Regions from separate parts of the Homo sapiens genome. Here all the other regions are reported to be linked to region 1. Evidence: microRNA targets listed by miRTarBase, many of them from high-throughput screens and not tested one by one. Region 1 holds a microRNA gene; each other region holds the end of a gene's coding sequence.

Region 1 (4,067 bases):
GCAATTCTGAAAATGCACTAGCAGTCTGAATCTCCAAGTGATTTTTAGACGTTTTGAAAAATCCAAGAAATTCTAAGACCACCACAGTTTGGAACCATGCCTTGAGTAATAGGCCTGGGATAGACATGAAATTCCTACACTGCATTTAATTAGGAGGTTTTGATCAGGGTTCCAACTGGCATTTGCAGCTGATGTTTGATTAAGAGAAAGTCCTGTCTCAAAATATGAGAAAACTTGAATAATAAAAGCACTGTGCCAATGGCTTTTCATGTATTTGTTTAGAACCTGCCTTGGTTCCAGGAAGGATTTAATGTGGATTTCTATCATTGCATGTGCTGTCTTCATCAATGGTTTAAAATATCAACCAGGGTGAAGATATAAGAGAGGAATATCGAATCATTGCTTAGAAGAAGACTTGAGCAGGCATCTCCTCCTCCTCCATCTAAGCTTCAAAAGAGGCCTCCCCTAACCAGACAGTCCAGTGAGATAATGAATTAATTAGAGACTTGGAAGGGTTAGCATGAGAGCCTTGTCTGTCTTGCCTCTGGCCCTCTGTCTGCTCGGCTAGATCCTGGTTAGGAGCTTTTGGCAGTCCTCAGGTTGGGGATGAGATACCTTGGCAGGCTTGAGTGGGCATCAAAGACACCAGGAAGGATCCCAGCCCAGTTTCTGGCAATTCTATCTGTCACTGGGTTTTATGCCTGTGTTCAAAATATTCCATTTCTCCATCTGTAAAATGGAGATAATCCTTCCTCACCTTGCAGGGATGTTGGGAGGATTAATTAGCTAGTGTTCCTCAAGTGCTTTGAAGATGAAAAGGCTTGTGGAAGTGCTAAGTATTAAGGCAAGGCAGCGAATGCCTGCTGGAAGTGCTCTTCCTTTCCTCATCCTCTTGTCAGCAGTTGTGTTTCTCTTGCCTTTTCTGCATATTTCACAGACCAAAGTGCTGGCATGGTAGGTAGGACAATGCATGGATCAGCACAGAACAAAGACAGTAATGCCTTATTTTATGCCTTGCTACTAACTTGGCTTATCAGTTGGCATGACCTCTGAAGATCTTTTTGCTCTGAATGTTTTAATCATCAAGTTCTGGTGGTTATCCAAGGTGATCCTAATCTACTTTGGGGTGGAGGGAGGAAGTGGTGTCAGGAGAGATCAAACCAGGCCACCTTGAGCTGAAAGCTCTGAAGGAGAAGGATTCCTTGAAATGGAGGTAATTTTTGAATTATAATAAGTGAGAAGACTGCAAGGGAGACAAGCTGAGGGACAAATGCTCTGTGCTTTTCTCCTCACTTTCACAAACAGGAGGAGAACTTCCACTGACCTAGCAGTAGTTTGCTCCTCCAGGCTGTCATGTCTTCTGATCATGTCTTTTATGAGGTGAATTTCTCCTCATGAAAGACTAGACTTTAAGGAGAGATTCTGTGCAGGTCCCTACAGTGTGGAGATGGATTGATTGGGCCTACAGATTGCAGCTAATCAATTCATCCTTTGCTTCCCAAAGGTTTATGCATTTGGGTGGAGTTCACAATGAGTGGTCTGGGTGCAGGGCCGTGTGGAGAAGCATGTCCACCGCTCTTGCCCCGGTGGCTTCTTTAGATAATCTTGCAATCTTCACAGGTTCTTTTCTAGGTATGTTATTGTTTGGAATAACTCCCTTGAGTTTGGAAGAAGAAAAGGAATAGTACCAGGTTTACTCAATCATTTGTTAGTTTGCTTGTTATCTTAAAAAATTCTATAAAATTCTTTTGAGAAGTTTCTCTGCTCATTGATCTTGAAAATCTCCTTGCTTTAGAGAATGGATGTGCTCCTCATATGCTAAGGATAAACCAGATTTTGGTAAATCAGGTTATCTTAGGGGTCCCAGGTGAGTTTGCCATTTTAACGATGCTTAGAGTGAATCCTTGTATAAGGGAAAGTATCTTGTATATTCTGTATCCTTTAGGAACTCACGTCTGTTGACTTTATCAGATGTTGGGGTGGTGGTGAGGCTAAAGACCAATAGGCGACATATGGCAGGATCTTCCCTCCAAGTGACCCTCTGGAAAGGGCTATACTTACTTAATTTTGGTGGAGCTCATCATAGGGTCAGGAAACCAGGGAGAAAGCTGAGCAACTGGTATTTATAGATCTTTCTCTTTAAATCAGGTTTGCTCATGATTTGTCTGGTCTTTATTCTTCTCCATGTCTGAAACTGAGTTCCTTGGATTCCCTTCTCTTCAAAGCCCTCTTGGCAACCTTCTGAGGAATGGCAGAGTTCATTCTGATCCACGTCCGGTGAGCGTAGCTCAACCGTGATGGAGCTTGACCTGTCAAATTCACAGAAAAATGTCCGTTACATATTCCAGCTGTTCCTTAAACATGCTCCCTAAGAGCTAGTTCCATTTGTTAGCTGTCAGAACGATGTGGAGGAATTGCTCCAGACCCTTGGATGTCATCAACCACTTTTGTTTATACACCAGTTATTTTCTCTATTAGCAAATCAATGTTTGGCAAAAAGAAAGCACAGGCTAAGAACTTTTCCTGATGAGTTGCTGCCCCAGCCTTGGAACTCTTCTCAGCCAAAAAAAAAAAAAAAAAAAAAAAAAAAAAAAAAAAAAAAAAAAAAAAAAGAAAGAAAGAAAGAAAGAAAGAAATTGAGGAGGAATTCAGTTTTACATGTTTTCCTTCCTGCTTACATGAACAGAGGAGGCCTACCTGAAGCTGAATCCAAGCACTGCCTTTGACGTTGGTAAAGATGGGGCTCTGAGCTCACATATCACCTTGGAAACTGGATCCTGTTACTGCTGGGAAAGGAATGCTTGGTTGCCAAAAGCATTAAGATAGGGAATGTGGATTCCACCTCTCAGTGCTCCTGCCTTGGATCAATTAGGTAGGATACTACCCAGAGATACAGACATGATGGACCAAGTAACTTCTCCAAACTTTGATTCTCTCTGGATCCCATGGATATGGGAACTGTGATGTCCAGGAGATCCAGAGAGAATCAGAGTTTCAGTGAGTGAAACCTAGAGTGTGTGCTGCTAGGATTTTCCTCATAAACCTGGGTGTTTTATTCTTGTGGGCCAGAAAGTTATTTCATTCCTAAACCCGTGATGTAGACTTCTCAGAAATTCCAGTGGTGTGGAGGATCCAGCTTCTATCAGCTCACAAGAGCTGATTGCACATATCTCTCCCCAACTGCTGTTCAGTGGCATCAAGTTGGTAGCTTGAAATCTGCCATGATGAGAGTATTTACACTATAGAAATTGGCAAATATGGCAAATAAGGGTCCCCACCACCCATGCTTGTGAAACATCTTCCAGCACACCAAGGAAATTATCCTAACACGTAACATCACTTATGGGGGCTGTTTAGCTTCAGGGGAGGAAATCCCCTTTGCTCTGATCTCATTGTGTGTACCTGCTTTGCATAGGCAGACTACCCCTTGTTCTCTCATCTATTAAACTCGACCTGAGAGAGAGCTTCATGAGATGGGTTGTGTGACAGGAGATCACTAGGGTAATGAGTCTGTTCCTTTCGCTGCTCAGCTATATGACAGGTTATTTTACCTCTCTAGGCCTCAGCTTCCTCTTCACTATAATAAAAGTAATTTAGATCATTAAATAATTGCTAAGTTTCCTTGTAGCTTCGACATTCTGCAATTTGATGAGTGCTTGGCTGCTGGAAAATGTCATGTGTTTCAAAGGCTTGGGGCACATGCACATCATTCACAGTGACCAGCTGAGCTCTCTCATTTTCTTTCTGGATCTTGGACTCCCAGTAATTCTACTTTTATCTGGACTTCTATCTTCAGCATGAATGAGCAGGGTGCCTCTAAGTGAGAAGCATAATTGATTAGTTCCTTCCATCTGGGGGTGTCAAAGCACTTTCAAGTCAGTAGTCAGTATCCATCATGGTTGCTCTGCAGGGAAGACTGCCTGAGAGTGCCTGTTTTGCAAGGGACATATCACAGTGGTGGACCAAGGACCCAGAATTATTGACTTGTCTTTTAATCAGAAAAGGGGCTACTTCCTGGTCTTAAAGAAGTTCCAGCTTTGAGATTAATCTGCTGTCTATAACCCCAG
Region 2 (4,065 bases), not on the chromosome of region 1:
CTCTGCAGATGACAAGGCAAGGTCCTCAGCCTGCAGCACTTGGGGAGGCCCAGCCTCCCAGTCTGGGGAAGGTAAGGCTTTGGGGTTCGTTCTTTCCATGTCAGACTTTCAGGATCCAAGACCCTTCTGGCTTACCGTGCCAGATCTTCTCTTTTTTTCTTCCCACTACAGGATGCTCGCTCTATGGCAGCAGCTGCTGCATCCCTCGGGGGACCCCGAGCAAACACAGTCCTGGAGCGTGTGGAAGGTGCCCAGCAGCGGTGGAAGCTGCAGGTGCAGGAGCAGCGGAAGACAGTCTTCGATCGGCACAAGATGCTCAGCTAGATGGGCTGGTGTGGTTGGGTCAAGGCCCCAACACCATGGCTGCCAGCTTCCAGGCTGGACAAAGCAGGGGGCTACTTCTCCCTTCCCTCGGTTCCAGTCTTCCCTTTAAAAGCCTGTGGCATTTTTCCTCCTTCTCCCTAACTTTAGAAATGTTGTACTTGGCTATTTTGATTAGGGAAGAGGGATGTGGTCTCTGATCTCTGTTGTCTTCTTGGGTCTTTGGGGTTGAAGGGAGGGGGAAGGCAGGCCAGAAGGGAATGGAGACATTCGAGGCGGCCTCAGGAGTGGATGCGATCTGTCTCTCCTGGCTCCACTCTTGCCGCCTTCCAGCTCTGAGTCTTGGGAATGTTGTTACCCTTGGAAGATAAAGCTGGGTCTTCAGGAACTCAGTGTCTGGGAGGAAAGCATGGCCCAGCATTCAGCATGTGTTCCTTTCTGCAGTGGTTCTTATCACCACCTCCCTCCCAGCCCCAGCGCCTCAGCCCCAGCCCCAGCTCCAGCCCTGAGGACAGCTCTGATGGGAGAGCTGGGCCCCCTGAGCCCACTGGGTCTTCAGGGTGCACTGGAAGCTGGTGTTCGCTGTCCCCTGTGCACTTCTCGCACTGGGGCATGGAGTGCCCATGCATACTCTGCTGCCGGTCCCCTCACCTGCACTTGAGGGGTCTGGGCAGTCCCTCCTCTCCCCAGTGTCCACAGTCACTGAGCCAGACGGTCGGTTGGAACATGAGACTCGAGGCTGAGCGTGGATCTGAACACCACAGCCCCTGTACTTGGGTTGCCTCTTGTCCCTGAACTTCGTTGTACCAGTGCATGGAGAGAAAATTTTGTCCTCTTGTCTTAGAGTTGTGTGTAAATCAAGGAAGCCATCATTAAATTGTTTTATTTCTCTCACTTTCTGGTTTTTAAGAGATTTAGGGAACTAGGAATTTTTCACAAGTGACCTGGTAAATGTAGTATCCCAGAGGGGACAGAGAGCATTGCGTTTTGCTAGGTCCAGACAGGCAGAGCCTTGGGAAGTCCAGGCGGCCGTGGCAGAGCCAGCCACAGTGCAATCAGGCCAAGGCCACGGCTTGCTGGAAGTCCTCCTCACCTGATTAGGAAAGAGGTGGGTAGGCTGGGGCAAGGAGCACAGGGTGAACTGGCCCTTGGGAGTTATCCTGAGATTTTACTTCATGTTTATGGGCAGTTCCTCTGAAACTGAACAGTGCGTGATTCATCCTAATATCCTACAGACACAGTAAATAGCGCTCCCTGCAAAACCTGTAAGTATCCCCAAATGAAAACCAACAGGTATTTGGAGAGGGGTGGGTGGGGGCAGCTAGAAAACGAGCTGCCCCATACAGAAGGAAATGCCAGCAGCTTCAACAGGGACATCCAGGGGAGCCCGGCACTGCGTCAGCTCCAGTATGGATGTGCGGTGCAGGGCATGTCCAAGACCCAGGCAGAGGCAAGGCATCTAGAGGGACTGAGCTGATCTGGTGTCATCAGGGTTGTCCAAATAAACATGGATTAAGAACCTTTGTGGGCTGGGCGCGGTGGCTCACGCCTGTAATCCCAGCACATTGGGAGGCCGAGGCGGGCGGATCATGAGGTCAGGAGATCAAGACCATCCTGGCTAACACGGTGAAACCCCATCTCTACTAAAAAAAATACAAAAAATTTGCTGGGCATGGTGGCGAGCACCTGTAGTCCCAGCTACTCGGGAGGCTGAGGCAGGAGAATGGCATGAACCCGGCAGGCGGAGCTTGCAGTGAGCTGAGATCGCGCCACTGCACTCCAGCCTGGGGAACAAAGCAAGACTCCGTCTCAAAACAAAACAAAACAAACAAAAAAAAACCTTTGTGTGGGCCCCCATGCTGGGTTCTTGGAGAGGTGTGGGAGGCAAGAGAACGACGTGAGATGGGGGGTCAGTTTGCAACAGTTTGCCAAAGTTCCAAGACAGAAGCGTAAAGGGGATGGGACTGGGGTGACCTGCAGATGGGGCTCCCAGGAGGAGCAGAGACTCTGGTTGGCATTGGAAACAAGGGACACAGCTGAGAGGGGACCAAGTGGATTGTGGGGTCCTGAGCAAGTGCACTTAGGAAGTTTGTGGTAGGGCTAGCAAGCGATAGATGTGCCCCCAAATGCAAGGCTGGGACAGAGGAGTTGGTGCTGACAACATTTCTACTGGGTCATTTACTAGACAGCTGCTCAGTGCCTACCAGGGTCAAGTACTGCTGTGGAAGCTACAGTGGGCTATTTTATTCTTTCAGGATGGGGATGCTCTTATTTCAAGAGGCATACAAAAGCAGCACTTTCCAAAGGTGGGCAGGTGGGTGTATTAACTTAGCAAGAATAACCAGGCCAGAAATTGGTGCCTAACATTGCCAGGTCTCCCCTGTAAAACCACATGCCCTGGGGGAAACATTGAGTGCTATATTTCTCTGAGGCTTGGGTAAGTCCTGCAGATGATCCAAACTGGCTTTGGTGGTTTTTGGGACAACTGTTGTTAACTATAAATAAGCCGAACTATAAGTCCAGTATATGAACATTTATAAAAGATTAGGAGTGACTGTTCACTTTACTAAGGATTCAACTAGTAACCAAACGTCTCATTGTGTCTCAACTTCACACACACAAAACCCGATTTTCAGACGATGGCAGAGTACACTTCATCTTTCTGTGAATATGAAGGGGCGGAGATCCCCAGCAAAGGGGTGAGCACACTGCTTGGCTGGTATTTGGAACAGAGATGAAGACCCCTGCAGCCAATGATGGAAAAGATCAGAAATGACGTTCTTCACCCTGTCTCGTATGATGTAAAAGGAACAGAACTTGGCTGGGCATGGTGGCTCACGCCTGTAATCTCAGCACTTTGGGAGGCCAAGGCGGGCGGCATCACGAGGTCAAGAGATCGAGACCATCCTGGCTAACATGGCGAAACCCTGTCTACAAAAGATACAGAAATTAGCTGGGTGTGGTGGCGCCTGCCTGTAGTCCCAGCTACTCGGGAGGCTGGGGCAGGAGGCTCGCTTAAACCAGGGAGGTGGAGCTTGCAGTGAGCTGAGATCGTGCCACTGCGCTCCAGCCTGGCAACAGAGCAAGACTCCGTCTCCAAAAAAAAAAAAGGAACAGAACTTGGTGCTGTTGTGTTCAGAATCCTGTCTTCCCTCAAACCCACCAACCATGCTGTTCTGTAATAGATTGGTCCCACCTGGAAAAACAACTGGTTGGGGTTGGCCCTGGGAACCTGAGCCTTAAGAATTGGTCTCCACGATTAGAGACCAGCACTCATCCCTCGTGTGGCTCACAGGGAGGCTGATGGAGAGGCCAGCCTGCTTCCTCGTGGCCTTTCCTTCATTTCTCACCTAGCCCGACTTGGTCCTCCTCCTCCTCTCGTTTCCTGGCATCCATTGTTACACATCTGCCAGCAAAACCCCAATCCCACCCAGTCTGACTTCCCTGCTCCTCCCTGGGCAGCCCAGTGCTGCCACAGAGGCTGAGGGTGCCCTGGCAGGTGCATGGCCTCCACCCCCTCCCTTCCCCCATGAGGGCCAATAATCCTCCCATGAGGCTCACTCTTGAGGCCACTAGACAACCTTCCTGTCTCCCCGTCTCCCTTCCCTAGAAAATCTTGCTTATGACTTCAAGAAAATGGAGTGATTTCTTAACTCAGCCCCATTGTTAAATCATTCTTCATTCATACTCATCCTGACTGCCTTTGCTACAGCCTTGGGGATAGTGTGTTCCTGTTCAAAGCCA
Region 3 (4,058 bases), not on the chromosome of region 1:
GAGATGCTAGGCTTTTTAACAAGCAGTTCTCATGGGAACCAAGAGAACTTATTTACTCCTGGGAGAATGTCACCAAGCCATTCATGGGGGATCTGTTCCCAAATTTCTCCCATCTGGCCCCACCTCCAATATTGGGCATCAAATTTCAACATAAGATTTGGTGGCATGAAAAACAAATCTCATGTCTTTCTTGCATTGCAAAATACAATTATTCCATCCCCCAAAGTCTTAACTTGTTCCAGCATCAACTCAAAAGTCTAAAGTCTCATTTGAGACTCAAGGCAAGTTCCTTACAACTGTGAACCTGTAAAATAAAAAAAGAAGTTATTTACTTCCAAGATACAGTGGTGGTGCAGACATTCCCATTCCAAAAGGGAGGAATAGGCCAGAAGAAAGGGGTAATAGGCCTCATGTGAGTCCCAAACCTATCAGGACAGATATTAAATATTAAAGCTCCAAAATAATCTGCTTTGACTCCATGTCCCGCATCCTAAGAACACTGGTTCAAGGGGTGGGTTCCAGAGCCTCAGGCATCCCCATCCCCATGGCTTTGCTGGGTGCAGCCCACGTAGCTGCTCTCGTGGGTTGGAATCCAATACCTGCAGCTCTTCCAGGCTGAGATTGTAAGCTGTTGGTGGCTCTACCATTCTGAGGTTGGAGAGTGGTGCCCCTGCTCCATCTGCTCCACTAGGCACTTCTCTAGTAGAGGCTCTCAGACCCTGTGGCAGCCTTCTTTCTGGGCACCCAGGCTTTCTAATACATCCTCTCAAATGTAAGTGGAAGCTGCCAAGTCTCCACTACTCTTGCATTCTGCATGCTTGCAGACTTAACACCACATGGAAGTCTCCAAGGCTTACTGGGTACACCTTCCAGAGCAGCAGCCTGAGGCCCTTTGAGCTGGTGCCGCTGGGGTGTGGGGAGCAGTATCACCTGCCCCATCAAAAAGCCATTCTTTCATTCTAAACTTCTTAATCTGTGATGGGAGGGGTGGCAAAGATTTCTGAAATAGCTTTGAGACATTTTTTCCATAGTCTTATTAGCACCTGGCCCTTTTTAGTCATGCTCATCTCTTTAGCAAACTATTGCTGCTGCTTGGTCATACTCTTAGATTCCTCTCCTAAAAACACTCTTCTTTCCTTCTCTAACACAAGGCAAGGCTGCACATTTTCCAATTTTCCTCTGGTCTCTACTGTAAGCAGTTAGAAGTAACCATGCAGCAGCCTGAGCACTTTGCTGGTTAGAAATTTCTTTTCCCAGATACCCTAGGCCATCTCTTAAATGAAGCCTTCCATAAAGCCCTAGAGCATGGACACAATGCAGACAAGTTCTTTGCTACGGTGTAACAAGTGTGACTTTTGCTTCAGTAACTTATAAGTTCATCATTTCCATCTAAGGCTTCCTCAGTATGACCTTTGCTGTCTCTTTTTCTATAAGCATTTTGGTACACAACTACTTAACCAATCTCTAAGAAGTTCTACACTTTCCCTTGTCTTCCCTGTTTTCTCCTGAACCCTCCAAACTCTTCCAACCTCTGCCTATTACCCAGTTCAAAAGCTACTCCCACATTTTCAGGCATCTTTAGAGCAATGCCTCACTCCTGAATACCAATTTTCTTAGTATGTTTAGTGTTGCTATAAAGGAATATTTAAGGCTGGGTAATTTATTAATGAAGAGATTTGGCTCATGTTTCTGCAGGCTGTACAAGAAGCATGGCACCAGCATCTATGGCACCACGCCATTCATGAGCGATCCACGCCATGATCTAAACAACTCCCACCAGGCCCCGCTTCCAATATTGGGGATCAAATTTCAACATGAGGTTGGTGGGGCCAAATAAACCCTAGGCAAACCATAACAGATCTGTAATTAATTCTTAAATTCTTTCCAAAGAGTACACCAAAATGCAGTCTTATTTAAAGAAAATACTGTGTATGTTTTGGATTGGATGCTACCTACCAGAAGATATTGTAGATCTCTTAAAGTTAGATTATAAACTCTTCAAAGCTACAAGAGTAGTATGGCCAGTTCACACAGGGTGAAGAACTGTATCACTCAGCAACAATGGTAAGTTAAAATCCCAGTTAACTATCAGTTATCTGTTAAACAGATGCCCTGAGAGAAATGGCATACATAATTCCTCCCCCACCACCAAAAGCTACTATAACATTAGTGTTAAAAATCACTGAGTTAGGGCTCTACTACTCATTCTAAAAACATGAAGCTTTAAGTTTCCAAGTGAAGGGTTTTTAAGACATTTTGTAATAATCTTTACTTTTAGTCACTTTGCCAGGTTTTTCTTTGAGATTTTATTTTCCTCCAAAATCTATTAATAGGCCTTCTTTACCATTATTCCTATGAGGATATTGCTTGTGACCCTTTTCTTGAGCTGCCCCAGGGTCCTCATGTGTGATCTCCTCACTACACTGAAAACCCAACTTGTTTAACTACAGGTTTGTTGCCAGTGGTCTCTGCCTGAAGGGTGTTAACAGAATTATGGCATCTCCCAAATTAACTGATATTATAGGTCACATAAAAAAGTAATTGCAGTCATTTTATTTTACAGACTAAAAAAAAAAAAAAAAACCCAAGACAGTATACTGTAGTTTGTTAGAAATAATTTTTTATACACTAGGTTATAACTTATTCACATATATAAGCTTATTATCATAATAAGAAAAGGTTTATATATTTTGGGTTTTCTTGTTTTAATAAAATAAATGTGCTAAGGTTCCTTTTTAATACTTTTTGGGAATATGTTTTGATGACAGTAGAAAATATTCAACATTAATTCACTAAACAACCAAAGAAGTAAAATTTTGATACTACCTCCAAAGTTAAAGATAGCAGGCATATCTTAACTACTTCCCAAAAAGACTAGGGAGTTAGGTAAAAGAGTGAAGGCATTTGAGGATTTTTCAAGTTCCAGATGACCAGACAGAAACTGTAAGCCATTGGCTACAGAATGAATGATAGCAAACACTAAGGTTTTTATGCACTAGACAGTGTATGTAAACACTTACTTATCACAGCTCCTGATATGAGCTGTTAACCAATAAATGAGTTCCATTCAGGCATTATAAACTACTAGATCCTTAAGGCAATTCCTATTTTATGGTTTTAGGCAAATACTTATAGATACAGCAATATAAATGTTAGTTTCCTAGATTTGGCAACTGCTAAAAACAGTCTTCAGAACTACATTAGATGCTAATGATAGAACTACAAAGACTAATTTTAAAGTGCATATCAGGAGATAATAAATCCTGCAGAAGCCTTAGCCTCTGTACATATAATCATAGGTTAACAGTTTTACAAATTCACGAACATTAAATTAATATGGAACAATCTAAAAAAAAAACACTCTTTAAGATGCATCCAGTTTCTTATAGGCTTCTTCAATGAAGGTTGACATGCTCTTCATCTGTGATGAATTATGAAGAATATCCAAGTCCTTTAGAAGAGCATTCTGGTTTGGAATTAGCGCCAAAATTTCTTTCTGTGGGAAAGATAGTATTAAATGTAGTTGTTAACATTTTATTATGAGAAATCTCAAATGTATGTTAGAGAGAACAGTAAAATAAACCTTAAGTATCTATCATCCAACTTCAATAATTGTCAACGAATCGCCATTCTTCTTTCAAATCTATCTCTCCCTCTCCCCATCCTGCTCCTTTCACCACTGGTAAATGATAGGATTTGTTTGTTTGTTTGTTTTTGTTTTTTTGAGGTGGAGTTTTGCTCTTCTTGCCCAGGCTGGAGTACAATGGCGCAGTCCTGGCTCACTGCAACCTCCAGCTCCCAGGTTCAAGCAATTCTCCTGCCTCAGCCTCCCGAATAGCTGGGATTACAGGCATGTGCCACCACACCTGGCTAATTTTGTATTTTTAGTAGAGATGGGGTTTCTCCATGTTGGTCAGGCTGTTCTCGAACTCCTGACCTCAGGCAATCCGCCTGCCTTGGCCTCCCAAAGTGCTGGGATTACAGGTGTGAGCCACTGTGCCCAGCCAATAGGAAAATTTCAAATTACTTCTTGAGAAAACATGAAGACTTTCCAATGC
Region 4 (4,067 bases), not on the chromosome of region 1:
GGCTCTTTCCCAGAGGCACAGCTGGGACACATCTGGACTGGAAAGGGGCTTGCCTCTCCTTCCCAGCTCCAGGCCTTGGAGTAGACAGGCCCCTTCTCCCTCCCTGCCTCCTCGAATACCGGGAATTCCGACGCCGCTGGGAGCCTGGGCCAGGCTGAGAACTTTCCTTCAGCCGGGAATGTGCAGCTGGGGCGGAGGAGGGGAGCGTCGGCTGCGGTCCTGACCTTGGGGAGGCTCCAGTGGAGTGGATCACTCCAGGCTGAGGAGTTCACCTCCGTCACCACGGGGCCCCCGGGACACAGCCTCGGCCCTGGTGTACAGTAGCCAGTCAATAAACAGTAAGTGAGCAGAAGCCAGCAGCTAATATTTATTGAGCCAGGCCCTGTGCTGGCAACTGTGCTCAGCTAATTATCAGAATCCCCTGAGGTGTGCACAGTACCAGGCCACAAGCCTCATGCGGGCAAGGCAGTGTTCTCTCATGTATCCCCACTGGCAAGAACAGCACCCGGCACAGGATAGGCACATTTATTTATGTATTTCATTTTATTTTTTTGAGACAGTTTTGCTCGTCTCCCAGGCTGGAGTCTAGTGGCGCAATCTCGGTTCACTGCAACCTCCACCTCCCAGGTTCAAGTGATTCTCCTGCCTCAGCCTCCTGAGTAGCTAGGATTACCGGCACCCACCACCACGCCCAGCTAATTTTTTGTATTTTTAGTAAAGACGGGATTTCACCATGTTGGCCAGGCTGGTGTGGTCTCGAACTCCTCACTTCAAGTGATCCACCTGCCTTGGCCTCACGAAGTGTTGGGATTACAGGCGTGAGCCACCGCACCTGGCCAGGACAGGCAAATTTAATGGTAGACTTAAGCCAAGCTGTGTGGATTCGAGTCTCAGTGCTGCACCTTCCTAGCTGTGCGACTAGGCAAATCCCTTAGCCTCTCTGTGCCTGCCTCAGTTTCCTCACCTCTAGACTGAGGATTAAAAAACATGCTCACTTGCATATTAGGAATGTAATGAGGACAGTGAACGAGCTTATATAAAGCGGCTGTAATGCTCATAGTATGTGCTTAGTACCCAGGAAATCTCAGCTTATTTGCTGCTAACTGATTGCTAAAAATTCAGATTCCTGGGCAGGGTATGGTAGCTCACGCCTGTAAACCCAACACTTTGGGAGGCCGAGGTGGGCGGATCACCTGAGGTCAGGAGTCCAAGACCACTATGGCCTGGCCAATATGGCGAAATCCCGTCTCTACTACAAAATACAAAAATTAGCTGGGCGTGGTCGTGGGCGCCTGCAATCCCAGCTAGAGGCAGGAGAATCACTTGAACCTGGGAGGCAGAGGTTGCAGTGAGCCGAGATCATGCTATTGAACTCCAGCCTGGGCAACAAGAGCGAAACTCCGTCTAAAAAAAAAAAAAAATTCGGATTCCCAGCCAGGAATGATGGCTCACGCCTGTAATGCCAGCACTTTGGGAGGCCGAGGCGGGAGGATCACGAGGTCAGGAGATCGAGACCATCCTGGCTAACATGGTAAAACCCCGTCTCTACTAAAAATACCAAAAAAATTAGCCGGGCGTGGTGGCGGGCACCTGTGGTCCCAGCTACTCGGGAGGCTGAGGCAGGAGAATGGCGTGAACCCGGGAAGCGGAGCTTGCAGTGAGCCAAGATCGTGCCACTGTACTCCAGCCTGGGCAACAGAGCGAGACTCTGTCTCAAAAACAAAACAACAACAACAACAACGAAAAATTAGCTGGGCATGGTGGTGCACGCCTATAATCCCAGCTATGTCGGGAAGCTGAGGCATGAGAATTGCTTGAACCCAGGAGGTGGAGGTTGCAATGAGCCAAGATTTTGCCACTGCACTCAAGCCTGGGTGACAGAGTGAGACTTTATCTAAAAAAAAAAAAAAAAATCAGATTCCCAAGCTCCTCCTTCCCTGGGGATCCTGATTCAATAGGTTGGGACTAGATACTGGGGGATCTGTGATTTGAATGATGCTCCTAAGCAAGTCAGAGGTTCAAATATGTTTGGGAAGTGGAAGGATATGCTCCCTAAATCTTTCAATGATCCCAGGAGGGAAGTACTGTTGTCTTCATTTTGTAGATGAGAAAACCGGCTCAGAGGGAGGACCCACACCAAATAAGTAAAGATGGGACTTGAATTCACAGCCAGGACACCAGGGTGCTTCAGAGAATCCTAGGGGAGCTTACATAAATAATGTGCTAAAGCACAAGAGGCTAAGTATTTGATGAAAGTAGCTAATATCATCACCAAAGAAACCGTTTAAATTGTGCCTCTCACTGGGCATACCACTGCTGGAACAAGGGGGCAGACAGAACCTAACATAAAAGCCTTTTGTCTCCACGACCTGAATTATTTTGCTGGGGGAGGGAGCATGTGGATGAATTGTAGAGGCTGCAAACTGCGGGGAGGAGTGAAGGGATCTGAGGTATGTGAGTGGGTACAAGAACTGGGATATTCAAGAGGAACTGACGGGAAGGATGCCAAGGGAAATCAGACAGATGTGGGACAGACTTATCCCAGAGCCCCAAAATTGATCTCCCCCGTATCAGCATGGAATTGTCTCTGAAGTATCATAGTACTAAGACCCCGGAGAGTCCAGTGAGGGAGGGATGGGGTATGTCGATGGATTGGGAGATGGCTGGGTGAATATGTATGGATGGCAAAATGAGTGGATGAATGGACAGATGGAAATATGGAGGGAGAGACGGACTGATGAACGGAGTGCTGGATGGAGAAGATGGGTAAGTGGGAAGATGGATAAATGGAGGGATGGAATGCCAGATGGGGTTAGAATGATAAAGGGATGGGTGGGTGAATAAGGCAGACAGTTGGATAAGCAAGGCAGATACGTGAGATGATGGATTGGAAGATGGGTAGATGGAGCGGGAAAGCTAGATGGAGCAATAGCCAGATGGATAGGTGGAGAGATGGCAGGGTGGGTGAGATGAACGGATGGTGGGAGACGTGAACTGTATAAATTGCCAAGGGAATGGATTTCTAGTGTCTACTTGAAGCAAAGCTTCTTAACTTGGCTTTCCTGGATGGGCATCAAGCAGTTCACACACACGCCAAGTTATAGTGGGTCCATTTTCCAATAATTCTCAAAGGAGTCTGAGATTCCCCAAGCTTTCAGAACCGCTGATTTGTTCTGTGTCAGACCTTCCCATTCATTGTCTTGTCATCTCCCACAGCCTCCAGAATGGGAAAATACACATCATTGCATGAAAGAATCAGTATTAACAAAACATTAATGACATTCCTCCCTTCCCCATCCCTGTGGATCAAGGCAAGAAGGGCCATTCGCCGATGCAGATACCAGGAGTTGGAAGGCCGCAGCAGTTTTGAGGCCTGCGTTCAGTGTCTGGACTTCCAGGTCAAGTTCTGAGGGTCTATGGCATCTGGCTGAAATCCTTGCTTCAGGGAAGCCTCATGTCCTGGCTCACATGTGGAAGGGGGCATCAGGAGCCCCCTGGGCCCTGTGAAGGCCCATAGATTCCTGTGTGGAGGCCAAGAGAGCAGGGTGGTTCAACCGGACCTGGGCCTTGGCTGGCCGCAGCCGCCCACCCCCGCCCACGTGGATGTTAACCGTCGTGGCATAGCTGAGCCGCCTGGCTGGGGGAGGTGGTGGCTGGGGCTGGGGGGGCGGCGAAGATGCCCGTGACGTGGGAGCAGAGGACCAGGAGCCCCGGGAGGCTGCGGGGGCCCCTCCCCCAGGCCCCTGCCGCCGAGCCAGGCTCTGGCTGATATATGAGGCTGCCAGGTATCTGGAGAGGGCAGCTGCATTGGGGCCCAGGAGCTGACGGCTGGAAGGTGGGGGACTATGAGGTGGCGTCAAGTCTGAAGACTCCAACCTGGCAACGTGAGAGGCTAAGGAGCCTCCTGGTTTGGACAAAACCATGGTGGTCTGAACTGGGGTGGGTGAGAGGCCCTGAATGTCTAGAGAGCCTCCTCTCTCAGGTAAAGGTGTGGCAGCTGGAACATGGGCATCTATGAGGCTCTTCTGCTCCAACGAAGGTGTGAGTTTTTGGACCTGTGTATCTGT
Region 5 (4,067 bases), not on the chromosome of region 1:
CACAGGGCTCCTTGATTCCCCAGAGCCACCCCTGTTAGCAAGAGTTCGGTGCCACTCAGCACCTCGCGGGGCCTCCCCAGGGGACACCACGCCTTGGTGGCGAGAAGGGGCTGTGGCAGCAACTGACCTCTAGCTGGAGATAATACAAATTGTTTTCTTCTCTCCCCCACCTTCCCAACCTGAGTAGAGTGTAAAGCGTGTTACCATAAAGCCTGCTTCAAGTCTGGAAGCTGTCCGCGCTGCGAGCGGCTGCAGGCCCGGCGGGAGGCACTGGCCAGGCAGAGCCTGGAGTCTTACCTGTCAGACTACGAGGAGGAGCCCGCGGAAGCGCTGGCCCTGGAAGCCGCCGTCCTGGAGGCCACCTGAAGAAAGCACGTGCAGCCCTCCCTCCGGGCCGGGTCACACCTGTTGCAGAACTGAGCCACTCTTTGAAGGACTCGCCCCACCTGGGGCTTCTTTTTTTTTTTTTTTTTTTAATTATCATCATCTTTTTTTTTTTTTTTACTGACTTGTCTGACGTCTGTGTGCAGTCAGCCGTCGGCAGGTTGATGGGTCCAGAGTCTGTGGTGACAGATAATTTGTAAACACCAGGTGTTTCCATCAGAACTGACATGCGGGTCCTTCAGTGAAGCTTCTAGTGCCTCTGTCAGTGGAAGAGACAGCAAGACCAAGTTCTTCCAGCGTCTGTGGCCTTCTCCTCTAGGTTTCACCTGCATGTCAGGTATCATTTCCAATTTTCCTTTGTTTCAGTTCTGGAGCTTCTGAGCCAGGCCTTTCTCAACCACCTCTCCTGCTGCTGAAACGGGGATGGCGTTTTCCCTCTCCCTGTCCTGGACTGGGGTCAGACTGTGCCCCGAGGAGAAGCAGCAGAGAATAGGACTACGTCATGGGCATTTCGTCCACTTATTTGGGTATTTTGGGGGCCACAGAACAATCCTGACTATCCTAGACTCCTCAGAGACCTCAGAGGCAGCTGTGAATGTCCCTATGTTGCCGGGAGTTCCTGTTTGAAATATTTGAAGCATAGAGGATGCCACAAGCTGACTTTCTTCATCTACCTTGGTGATCTTGAAGCAAAGAACAGAACTGATGCTCAGGCCAGGCTCACCTGTAGCCTTACGCCGCAAGCATACGTGAGGCGCCAGCTCTGTCGCTGAAGGAGCGCTTACTCAGAGGAGCGGTCGGCCCCCTCTTGGTGTTAAGGTCTCTTAGTTAACCTGGCTTTTTGGTGCAGGTGTGATCTTTGAAGCTCAGGCAGGTCCCTGATGCCATCCTAAGGTGAGGACAGGAACCTCACCCACCATCTTCTTAGCGTGTCCCTGATGACTCTGTCCTCTGTTAGATGGTCGTTGTGCTTCTGAGTAAAAGTACAACCCGACTCCGTTCTCTCCCCTTCCTGCAGCAGAGCTGGGTCCTTCCCTGGTGGCCGAGTCTCTCTTGCCTTAGCTTCTTTGGTCAAAGTTGGAGAAAAGCTTCCTGCTATTAGTGCTGTTACAGAACTTGACGGTTTGTGGATGTGAGTGTGAATGTCCCTGTGTTCTTGGGATAACAAGAGCCTTTATGCCAATTATGCACTTAACTCTGTGTAGCCTGGTAATGTTTATCTGTTCATTTGATAATGCTGATTTTAGTGTGCTGCCCCCCTCCCCCCGTTAATGTGTGTTGATGGTGAAGTCCTTTTGATAATGCTGATTTTGGTGTGCTGCCTCCCCCTTCCCCCCCGTTAATGTGTGTGTTGACAGTGAAGTCCTTGGGTGGGGCCATGTGTGTGTTTGTGATGTTCCTTAAGTTGATGCAGCTTCTAACCTCTGTGAAAACACTGGTCAGAGTGGCTTCTCCAAGAGCTGGCAGCTCTGTGAACTAAAGCCTGCATCATTTTTGTTCTGGGATTGAATTCTGCCCATGGGCATGTCTTCTCATAGTTGCTTGCTGGTAGGAAAGAAATGGGCGTGGGTGCTGCCCTGGAAGCTGAGCGGAAAGTTGCCTGTGGTTGGTGGAAGCTGATGAGAGCTTGAGCTGGCGGTAAGAAGGAGTCTCCCAGGGAAGTGGGAGAGGCATTAAGGTGATGGCCAGGGCTGAGGCTCCACCAGCGTGAGAGGGAACATGTGGGAACTGGCCCCTGCCCTTGATTCCTCTGCCTCAAAGTTGGGATCTGAAAGCCATGTAGGGCTAGAAGACCCTGAGGCTGTTCTCCCTTCTGTTCATAGTGAGACTCAAAAAGCCAAGTCCCAGAAGTTCTGAAGGGCTGTGACTAGAAGTGCCCAGGTCCTTCAGGGAGCTTTAAGAATGACCCCACAGAACTCAAGTTTAACTAGGGGTTAGGTCCCAGATTCAGACCCAGGAGTTTATAAAAATGAGCTCTACTTCCAGTTTTGGTTTAAATTACACATCCAGGCCAGGCACAGTGGCTCACACCTGTAATCCCAGCACTTTGGGAGGCCAGTGCGGGCGGATCATGAGGTCAGGAGTTTGAGACCAGCCTGGCCAATGTGGTGAAACCCTGTCTCTTCCAAAAATACAAAAATTAGCTGGGCGTGGTGGCACACGCCTGTAATCCCAGCTACTTGGGAGGCTGAGGCAGGAGAATCGCTTGAACCTGGGAGGCAGAGGTTGCAGTGAGCCGAGATTGCGCCACCGCACTCCAGCCTGGGTGACAGAGTGAGACTCCGTCTCAAAAAACAAAAAGGTGACACATCCAGCTCTTTCTCCAGGTCACTGCGCTGGAGGACAGATGTGCCGTCTTGTCCTGCCTGTTTCACATCAGCATAGGATCAAAGGATGACAATGCTGACAGCTTCTGAAGCCGAACTCAACAGTCTCATAGGCTCCTCACTTGTCACTTATTTTTCCCTAGCTCCCTCAACCGCACCCCATCCCTTTAGATCGTGCGTCTGTTTTAGTGACTCTGACACGATGCCGTCCTCACCTTCCAAATACCCAGTTATTTATTCAAGAGGGGGGAAGTGGGTAGAGGATGGGATGTTTTGGAAGCACTTTGCAAGTTACCACTATCTGAAAATCCCCTGCTGTTGCGGGGAGAAGCTTTGAATGCACTGAAGAGAATTCCTTCTAAATGAAGGCAGGTGATAGTGTTCTTTCTGTAAGTAAAGGGAAAGAAAAAAAACATAGTTTGCTTACCAGGTGGAGACAAGATTCAAGACATAGCAGAAGAGTGGAAGACAAATATTTTCCACTTAAATGAGGCTGTTTTTGACGTTCTCTGCCAAGGATTTAGAGCTTTCGTTGAACTAACATAAAAGGAGTGCGAGTCTTAGTAGAGATGTTCCGTGTGTGCCGCCCGTGCTCTGAACTGCGTTTCCACCTGCTGTGGTGCTTGTGCAGCCTGGCAGTTCATTGTCATCTTTAATAAACTAAGGAAATAAAATTCTGTCTTTCGTCAGCCTGCCTTGACTGTCAAGAAATGGCATGTGTCCACTGTAAAGCAGGTATATCTGAACATTGAGAAGGTTTCTGTGTTATAATGTAAAGCAAACTGGACCACACACATCAAGGAAAGTGAGGTGGAGTGGCTGTGTCTCTAACTTGCCATGAGACCTCGAGCGAACCACTTCACTTCTCTGGGTTTCTGGTGCATGGTGTAACTGTCACTTAAAATGAGGTGTCTTCCTCTCCGCAACATCTGACTTGCCTTAGATGCTTCAGTTCCCACTTCTGTGAGCAGCTAGCATCTTTCTCTTCTGCTCCTGGCCCACTGGAGCTCCAGCTCTACGCTGCAACTCTCTCAACATTTCCCCTTAAATGTCCCCTTGTCATCTCCAACCAGTGTGTCTAAAACCAGCATAAATTCCGTATTTCCAAAAACCTAACCATTAGTCACCCAGGTTTGAAAATTAATTGTCTTCAACTTCCTCTGTAAGTGGCACACTGAGCTCATCACGCATCGTCTCATTCCTACTCCCTGTCATCAAGTTCTGTGGATGTTTTCCTCTAAAATAAATCTCTCATTACTTTTCTGCCACTAGCACACAAATTCAGGTGTTCTTGATCATACATTATTTTCCTCCCTGCGCCTCAGTGGAACAATGATTAGAAGCACCTTGTGGGAT
Region 6 (4,065 bases), not on the chromosome of region 1:
TGTCACTGTCTCACTGTTCTGCAATTTATGAACTCAACGTTAAGTTTAATCCTCAGTACCATATCCAATATACACTGATGTAGATAAAGCAAGAGAGCTACTATAAAATCTTCTGTTTAGCAAAATAAATCTTTAGAAGATGTAATTGATCACCCACATAGTGATCTGTGCTGGATGGGGATGGTAAGGGAAATGATAGGACCAACACTTTGATGATTCCCCTCCTTTGTACTAGACGGACTCATGAAGTAGTCAGTTTGGCGTATTCAGTAGGGAAGTGCCCATGGGTACCATTTCCTACATCTGGGGTCCTTCAAAATTATCCCTGAGATGAGAGTTGTGGGGACAGACCCCAGGGTAGGGGTGCAAATACTTTATACTTAAGATGGTATTGCCAGAAGTTCTCTGTCCTGTTGGTTTGAGTCAACCATAGATGTACTAGACTTGATTTTTTTTACAATCTTTTCTGGTGACACAAACTCCATTTTCACCTAAGTTAGCTGTCTGGAGACTCCATTTGCTAGTAGTGCCACAAATTTCACTAGATAATGCTCTGTGGATTCCCAGGTCTTAACAAAGCAGCCGGCATCATTTCTATTTCTTAGTCATCAACCTTTGTTGACTCTGGCAATGTTCCTTGCTTGACTGCCTTACTTTGAGGCATGGATGGAGTGGGGCTTAGTGGGCACCTCTTGCCATCAAGCCCTATTCCAGAAGCCCTTTCAACGGGAGATACCTTCTGGTTTTGGGGCTTTGGAAGGACATGTGGGTCATGCACAGTAACTCCTCTCTTAATACTGTTCATGGTATTGACTCCTCTCAGCTTCTGCTGAACAGCAAATATATTCATATTTTATAGTCCTTTAAAATATTATTTATATTATCAACTAGTGATATAATTAACTGGATCAGACACAGTATGGCTTTATGCATAGGAATTAAAATTATAGGATCTATTCCTGGGCTTCAAATCTTGGCTCTGCCATTGGAGTTTTAAATAACCTCTTAATTTTGAAATAACTATCTTATATTTCTTCTTCTTTAAAACTGGAATATTCTAGTTTTTTAAAATTAAAAACAAGTGCTATGTTGTATTAGCTCTCATTTTTATAAGTAAAGCTGTCATAGTCAGTGGTTTTTAATAAAAGCATCCCATTAAATCCAACAGAGCAGCTGCTGTGCTGTTGGAACCTCAGCACCCAGTCAATGCCCTGGAAATCCCCATTACCATGCCCCTAAGCTTTCCCAGAACCAGAGTCTCGCTGATGCTGTATTTCCCCCAAGTGTATATATATGGGTGGCTCCAGGTGATGTGCCTGTCAGCAGTGGGCAGCTGCAGCCTCTGAGATCTGGAGAAATACCATAATGACCTACAAAATGCCAGCACCACCACAAGGGGCAACATTTCCCCTGCCACATTTAGGCCCCTGGTTGGCAGCAAGCAGTGATAAGAGGCTGGCTGATAAGCACTAGAACAGTAGAAGTCCACAGGGGTGCCCATCTAGGAATCCCAGTGCTAGAGGCAGCTCATATGATGTCTGGGCCAGTCTCCTCAGATTCATAAAGGCCAGCGGCACAGGAATTTGTGTATGTGGGCAGGGTAAGAGTTTACTGGCATGGCACTAACAATTAGAATGGACACAAAAGCAGGGCCCTGGCGTCTCCTGCTGTGCCAACCATTCAACACTGGTTAGATTATGTGGAGGGACTGGACTGAAAGTGGGATGTACTTGAGGGGGGTTCAGAGGAGTGCTAAACTAGTAGGGAAGTGCTTTTGAAAAAGCTAAGTAAAGCTGTTTTAACACTTAAAAGGACCCAAAAGCAGAAATCCAGAAAGCTCTTAAGAATGACTAGCAACTAAAACCAGGAAGCCACTGATCCATAAAATTCTCTCCTATCACCTCTGCCTTTCTCGGTAAGCACACTCACTGCCCTTAAGCATGTCAGCTCTGCTGCTTCCAGGTATATATACAACAGCTGCAGTCACAAAAAGAGATGGGCTTTCTTTTCCTGAGCTAAATTCCAAATTTTCAGAGACTGGCCCAGTTTGGGTCCTATCTCCATATATGGCCAAAATGATAGGTACAACTGTATAATTTGGCAGCAGAAACCCAACCTGTGGAGGTGGGTTCATAAATAGAATAACCAATCTAAATTTAACCCATTTCACAGATGAAGCTAGAAAGGCAAACAAATGCGAAGAACCTTATATGCCATGATACCTTCATGTGGGTGGGAGATAAGGAAATGTAGTTTTATAAGAAGTAGATGGTTTAGCCGGGTGTGGTGGCTCATGCCTGTAATCCCAGCACTTTGGGAGGCTGAGGCGGGCAGATCACCTGAAGTCAGGAGTTCAAGACCAGCCTAACCAACATGGAGAAACCCCGTCTCTACTAAAAATACAAAATTAGCCAGGGTGGTGGCTCATGCCTGTAATCCCAGCTACTCGGGAGGCTGAGGCAGTAGAATCACTTAAACCTCAGAGGCGGAAGTTGCGGTGAGCCAAGATCGTGCCATTGCACTCCAGCCTGGGCAACAAGAGCAAAACTCTGTCTCAAAAAAAAAAAGAAGAAGAAATAGATGGTTGTTTCACTAAATGATGAATATGCAAAACACATTTGAAGAGACAGGGAAGAATATGGTTTTGGACATATAAGTTTAATTACCTGCTAGACTATCAGATGGAAATATGTGGTAAATGGATGGAAACAAGGTACATAAACTTAGGAGGCAGAAATTTTTAAACTTTAGGGTTAGACATTCACCAGATTGGACAATTTTTAACATTTAAAATAAAACTTTTTGTCATAAAAAACAAATGTATTAAAACTAGTTTCCAGAACTGCCCAAATGACTTTTTAAACATGACTTAAATGTCGTTTTGACAAATCTATCCAAAATACTAATTTTCCTTTTAGAACTTAGTTTATAATTTATATATTAAAGTGCCCTTAATTGATATTCATTGGGATACCTTCCTCTGAGCCCTAATGGTTTTGGGAGGCCTAGGCGGTGGATCACCTGAGGTCAGGAGTTCGAGACCAGCCTGGCCAACGTGGTGAAACCCAGTCTCTACTAAAAATGCAAAAATTAGCCGGGCATGGTGGCGGGCGCCTGTAATCTCAGCTACTCGGGAGGCTGAGGCAGGAGAATTGCTGGAACCCGAGAGGCAGAGGTTGCAGTGAGTCAAGATCGCACCATCACACTCCAGCCAGGATGACAAGAGCGAAACTCAGTCTCAAAAAAAAAAAAAAAGTGCCTAAGTATCTTTTAATTAAGTTGTCATTCTCAAAGATATTCTGGAGCAAAAATCAGGAATTAAACATCTATAAATTCTTCTTCACTTCTGTTATAGTGTAGTAATTTATCATCTAACCCATAGTGGTCTATCAATTGAGTAAGGCTTAGTTTCTTGTTCTCTTCAGACACAGCTGACTGCAACTCATAAAGCAAGAGCTGGCTACAGCTTCTCCACTTCTTTATTAACAACTGTAACTGAGACAGATCATTCTGAAACAGAAAAAAAAACATGTATGTCAATAACTAGTCATGCTAGTTCAACTTAATTAAAGTTGTTAAATTAGTGGATGTGCAGGTTTAAAGGCTAACATACACAGGGATGAATGGGACTTCTATCTAGGAAAAAGTAGGATGGTCATATGTAGAATGGTTACAATGTCACTCAACTTGAGTTCTATGGCTATTTTGTTGGCTTAAGCTCTGGGCCATCTTTATGATAAGGGAAAAATCAAATCATTAAATAGGGCCAAAACTATGTCAAGAAGCAATAATACAGGGAAAAATCTACTGTATTACAACTGTACTTTTTAAAAAATGACACTATGCTTTCCACTAAATGTTGCTATGAACCTAAAACTGCTCTTTAAAATTACAATATTCAAGTTAAAAATATTTTTTTAGGCTGGGGATGGTGGCTCACACCTGGGATCCCAGCACCTTAGGAGGCCAAGGTGGGAGGACTGCTTGAGCCCAGGAGTTCAAGACTACACTGTGCAAAATAGCAAGACTCTATGTCTACAAAAAAATAATTTTAAAAAATTAGCC
Region 7 (4,067 bases), not on the chromosome of region 1:
ATTAGTGTTTTCAGAGTCATTTGGTTGTAAATAAGAGAAAACCACTCACAGTCAACTAAGCAAACAAGTGTTAGAGGGAATCCAAAAATATCATGGACCCCTGGGGGAAGAGGTACAACCAGAATAGGGCAATAGGAAGTCATCAGGAACTAAGATGGTTTCTCTCTCCTCTAGTCTGAACTATTAAAGCAGGATAATCTTTATTTTCTTTGCACTTAGGTTTCATTCTTGTTCATTCTCTACAAACCAACTTTCTCCGCTGATGACCTAGACATAGCATTCCCAGCCTCCCATTTTCCCAGATCAGGAATTTCATTATAAATCCCAATTACAAATCCCTGCTTAGAGAAGGGTTGAGTCAGTTGTACCACCATGGTCCAGTTAACTATAGCTGAGGGAACAGGCATGCGGCTTTTTAATGTCTAAGAGGGTATTTTGTTCCTAGAAAATGAAATGCCCTCATTGAGTTGAACAGACTAAATTTGTTTTAACAATCCCATTTACAATTCAAATTCCTTTAAACAACTTAATAGCATTTATACATTTAAAAAAATGATTCTTTTAAGCAGCATTGCAAATGCTTGACCCCATTAGCATAAACCTTCCCAAGTGCTTAAATCTCATAAACATAATAAATTAAACATACGGTGACTTTCCAAGTTCTCTGAAACATTTCAGTACTTTTGCAGACTTAGTAACATTTTAAAATACCTTTCAACTGAAACTCATAAGTCTAAAAGTCTGTTAAGCATTTTAAATTAGAATCTTAAGGCCAGTGTCACATATTGTAATATGCCAATTATGTTTAAATACTTCAAACAGCAAATACTACAGTTTATCTCAATGAATATAATAACCATTCCTGCTGGGCGCAGTGGCTCATGCCTTTAATCCCAGTCATTAAGGAGGCTGAGGTGGGAAGATTGCTTGAAACCAGGAGATTGCCTCAGGCCTGGGCAACATGGTGAGACCTCTTATCTCAAAAAATCAAAATAAAAAATTAGCTGGGCATGGTGGCTCATCCCTGTAGCCCCAGCTTCTCAGGAGGCTGAGGTGGGAGGATAGCTTCAGCCTAGGAGACAGAAGCTGCAGTGAGCTATGATCACACCACTACACTCCAGCCTGGACAACAGAAAGAGACCTTGTCTCTAAAAACAAAACAAAACAAACAAACAAAAAAGTACTCCTGAATTTAAGTATTGATGGCTATGGGAATTGCTTCCTAACCTGTTTGAAAAATGTGTTAACTGTTACATATTTTGAGAACTGCAGCACTCAGTGAAGCTTTGTTAAAGGGAATGAGGAGTTTAGGCCCCAGCAGGCAAACCACTTCACAGTGCTAGGATGAAGAGCTCACACTCAGGGACTTCGAGAGTGAATCAACTACTTTCGTTAACTCAATGTTAAATGAGAATAACATCAACCTTGGATGGTTGTGGTGAGAATCAAATGAAATGACATATGGGAAAACCTTTGTCACATGTTACACAATTGACGGCAACTACAGCTTTAGGTAGAATTTCAACTTCTAATTTTTACTACTATGCAAATTATCAGAATATTTATGATGTTAACTTTTTAAAAAGGTTTTTAAATAGAAACTTTATTTAAATAAATGAACTCTTCTCAACCCCAAAACCCAGCTTCTGATCTTGACTAAGTTCATAATTACTCAGGGAAAAACACTGCTGGTTCCTTATAAGCCACTGTGCTGTACGAAATCAATTCATGAAAAGGAAACGCCCTATTTCCAAGCATACCTGTACTAGAATATATTAAGTATATTCACTTAACATATTAATTTAAATGTTAATGTTAGTCTAAATGTTAAATTAATTTAATATGTTAAACTTAATACGTTTATTTAATTTTTACTTAATACCCTTACTGGAACATATTAAGCATTTTTTCGGCTTAAAAAAAACAAAAAAACAAAAAAAAACCCTGAATTTACAGAACTAAAATTATGAGAGGAGATTCGCATTACAAAATCTTCCTCTATGGGTTCTTCTAGCTCAAGACATTTTTCTTACTGATTTTTAACTACTTGAGTTGGCGTAATAATTAGAGAAAAGCAGGAGAGGTAGCAACTGTGAAACCAGTGTACTAGGAGTTACTAGCCAATGATTATCTATCAGGAACAGATACATCAAAAAGCCAAGAAAATAAGAATCTCTCTTTATAAAAAAATAATAGTTACAGGCTGGACACAGTGGCTCACACCTGTAATCCAAGCACTTCGGGAGGCAGAGGCAGGTAGATCACTTGAGGTCAGGAGTTTTAGACCAGCCCGGTAAGGTGAAACCCCGTCTCTACTAAAACTACAAAAATTAGCCAGGCGTGGTGGGGCACACCTGTAATCCCAGCTACTCAGGAGGCTGAGGCAGGAGAACTGCTTAAACCCGGGAGGGCAGAGGTTGCAGTGGACTGAGATTGCATCACTGTACTCCAGCCTGGGCGATAAAGCGAGACCCTGTCTTTAAAAAAAAAAAAAAAACTTCTAAAAAATAATTATTTACATTAAACTTTTAAAAACAACTATTTTTCAAAGCAAACTGCTCTGCATTGGGGTTCCGAAATACAATATGATTGTGAATAATGGGGGGAGGAATCTAAATACAAATCAGAGAAAACAGTTTTCAGAGGATTAGGTAGCTTAGCTACAAGATTAGCTTGAAACATATGAAGAATAGTCTGAAAGGCTGTTGTAAGAAAAATGACAAATTCTATCATTCCTCTGACCTGAAACAAGGTGAAAACTTGGTAGAAAGGCTGCATGAAGAAAAAAAAAAAAGTAGTCCAATAAGGTCTATCTGTAGAGCTTGCTCTCACACTCTGAATACAAATCTAGCTAGTGTCAGTTCTTCAGAGCCGAAAACTTACTTGCCACACTTGGAACCGATGCAGTCCCATTACCAGCTGAAGCAGGGCATGTGATCTAAGACAAGTGTAGATATCAAGGAGACAGGAAGCAAGCTAAGCAAGGGCCTAGAAATCCCAAAGGCACTGATTAAAGTCAAGAAAGAGGCTTTTTGTTGTTGCCAATTGTTTTTGTTGTCTTCCAGAGGTAATACAAGGCTTTGCTCCTTTAGCAGGATTCCCAGTTGGACCCTCTCCAGAGAGGATTCATATTTGAATTCCCATCTGAATACCAACCCAAATGTTGATACAGAACACTCCTGTATTAAAATTAATATCCATCCCAGATAAACCTACTCTGTGACTAAGACAATTGAGATCTTCTAGGTGAAGATGCTATAATTCAAAATATTACATGGAAAACCATGTCTTACTTAAAACGGGTACTTGTTTTCCGGCCATAATTATTCCAGTCTCTTCCACAGAACTGCTTCTGCAAACAGTTTTTTTAATGTATCAAAGAGAGTCTCTCGCCAACATTTAATACAGTCAAATCTATTCCAACTTCAGAGTTCTTATATGTCTTATTTAGCAGACACTATGATTCTATCTTCTTATTCTCTGGAAATCCATCAGATGTGTGTTCCAACACAGAAGTGCCTTCCTTCCTTCTCATGGTGGCAAAAAGCATATCCATCATCCCCAAGGTTTCTAACAATTCTCTTTGGTAATCAATCTCTTTTTCTACAAGTCCTTGAAGTAGTAAAAACTTTTTATCAACTACAGGGGACTGACCAATTACAGGCAGATATATATCTAAAAAGAGAGAAAGAAAACACATTAACTAGCAATATCTTTCCATACATTAAGTGAAAAGCAAAAGTTTTTAAAAGTATAAAAATATTAAACATAAGAACACTGAAAAATCTGTACTTATTTTATAATTAATTAATGATTTATAGAAAGTATAACAATCCCTCTGAGTAAATTAATTTCAAAAAATAATAATTACAGAAAGTATAGGGTGGAGTTCCTGACTTATTTTCATTTTCCCATTTGAAAAATTGTCATCGTCATTATAGATGTCTATGAAAAAAATTTTTTATAATAACCCTAGTCCCATCAATTCAAAGTCACACCACTATAAACATTTTACTACTTTTTAAACTGCACTGACTTGTTGTTTTCTCCATGAAAATCCATATTGA

Evidence for each region. The annotated mature microRNA hsa-miR-4768-3p reads CCAGGAGAUCCAGAGAGAAU and lies in region 1 at 2,968-2,987, shown strand. An mRNA with a match to its seed (bases 2 to 7 or 8) in the 3' UTR can be bound and repressed. Matches are read on the target gene's strand: a 7mer-m8 pairs with bases 2 to 8, a 7mer-A1 pairs with bases 2 to 7 and ends in A, and an 8mer does both.
Region 2: miRTarBase lists TMEM9 as a target of hsa-miR-4768-3p. Seed matches in the 3' UTR shown: 7mer-m8 at 625-631.
Region 3: miRTarBase lists CENPQ as a target of hsa-miR-4768-3p. Seed matches in the 3' UTR shown: 8mer at 3,247-3,254.
Region 4: the mRNA of PLEKHG2 is a reported target of hsa-miR-4768-3p. Seed matches in the 3' UTR shown: 7mer-m8 at 1,621-1,627, 8mer at 1,501-1,508, 7mer-m8 at 1,312-1,318 and 7mer-A1 at 1,200-1,206.
Region 5: the mRNA of RUBCN is a reported target of hsa-miR-4768-3p. Seed matches in the 3' UTR shown: 7mer-m8 at 787-793.
Region 6: the mRNA of SFR1 is a reported target of hsa-miR-4768-3p. Seed matches in the 3' UTR shown: 7mer-m8 at 3,145-3,151 and 7mer-A1 at 3,028-3,034.
Region 7: miRTarBase lists UTP15 as a target of hsa-miR-4768-3p. Seed matches in the 3' UTR shown: 7mer-m8 at 2,385-2,391, 7mer-A1 at 2,371-2,377, 7mer-A1 at 2,272-2,278, 7mer-m8 at 2,076-2,082, 7mer-A1 at 1,041-1,047 and 7mer-m8 at 935-941.

Annotation. Positions count from the first base shown.
Region 1 is chrX:17,422,960-17,427,026 of GRCh38, forward strand. MIR4768 (microRNA 4768) reads left to right here and starts at 2,922; the gene lies at 2,922-2,995. All of the region lies in intron 1 of NHS (NHS actin remodeling regulator), which reads left to right.
Region 2 is chr1:201,131,922-201,135,986 of GRCh38, reverse strand. It overlaps TMEM9 (transmembrane protein 9), which reads left to right. Exons shown (of 5, transcript NM_001288565.2): 5 at 172-1,215. The coding sequence ends at 324. Among named protein-coding and RNA genes, the nearest start is that of ASCL5, 6.8 kb to the right of the region's middle. RefSeq lists a silencer at 1,234-1,440.
Region 3 is chr6:49,491,582-49,495,639 of GRCh38, reverse strand. CENPQ (centromere protein Q) reads right to left here. Exons shown (of 9, transcript NM_018132.4): 9 at 2,533-3,496. The coding sequence ends at 3,365. Among named protein-coding and RNA genes, the nearest start is that of GLYATL3, 6.3 kb to the left of the region's middle.
Region 4 is chr19:39,424,692-39,428,758 of GRCh38, reverse strand. It overlaps PLEKHG2 (pleckstrin homology and RhoGEF domain containing G2), which reads right to left. Exons shown (of 19, transcript NM_022835.3): 19 at 344-4,067. The coding sequence ends at 3,465. Among named protein-coding and RNA genes, the nearest start is that of RPS16, 9.2 kb to the left of the region's middle. RefSeq lists a silencer at 1-290 and an enhancer at 61-706.
Region 5 is chr3:197,671,317-197,675,383 of GRCh38, reverse strand. RUBCN (rubicon autophagy regulator) reads left to right here. Exons shown (of 20, transcript NM_014687.4): 20 at 188-4,067. The coding sequence ends at 366. MIR922 (microRNA 922) reads left to right here and starts at 808; the gene lies at 808-888.
Region 6 is chr10:104,124,958-104,129,022 of GRCh38, reverse strand. It overlaps SFR1 (SWI5 dependent homologous recombination repair protein 1), which reads right to left. Exons shown (of 4, transcript NM_001002759.2): 4 at 2,640-3,510. The coding sequence ends at 3,319. Among named protein-coding and RNA genes, the nearest start is that of SFR1, 4.8 kb to the right of the region's middle.
Region 7 is chr5:73,579,485-73,583,551 of GRCh38, reverse strand. It overlaps UTP15 (UTP15 small subunit processome component), which reads right to left. Exons shown (of 13, transcript NM_032175.4): 13 at 172-3,675. The coding sequence ends at 3,458. Among named protein-coding and RNA genes, the nearest start is that of UTP15, 16 kb to the right of the region's middle.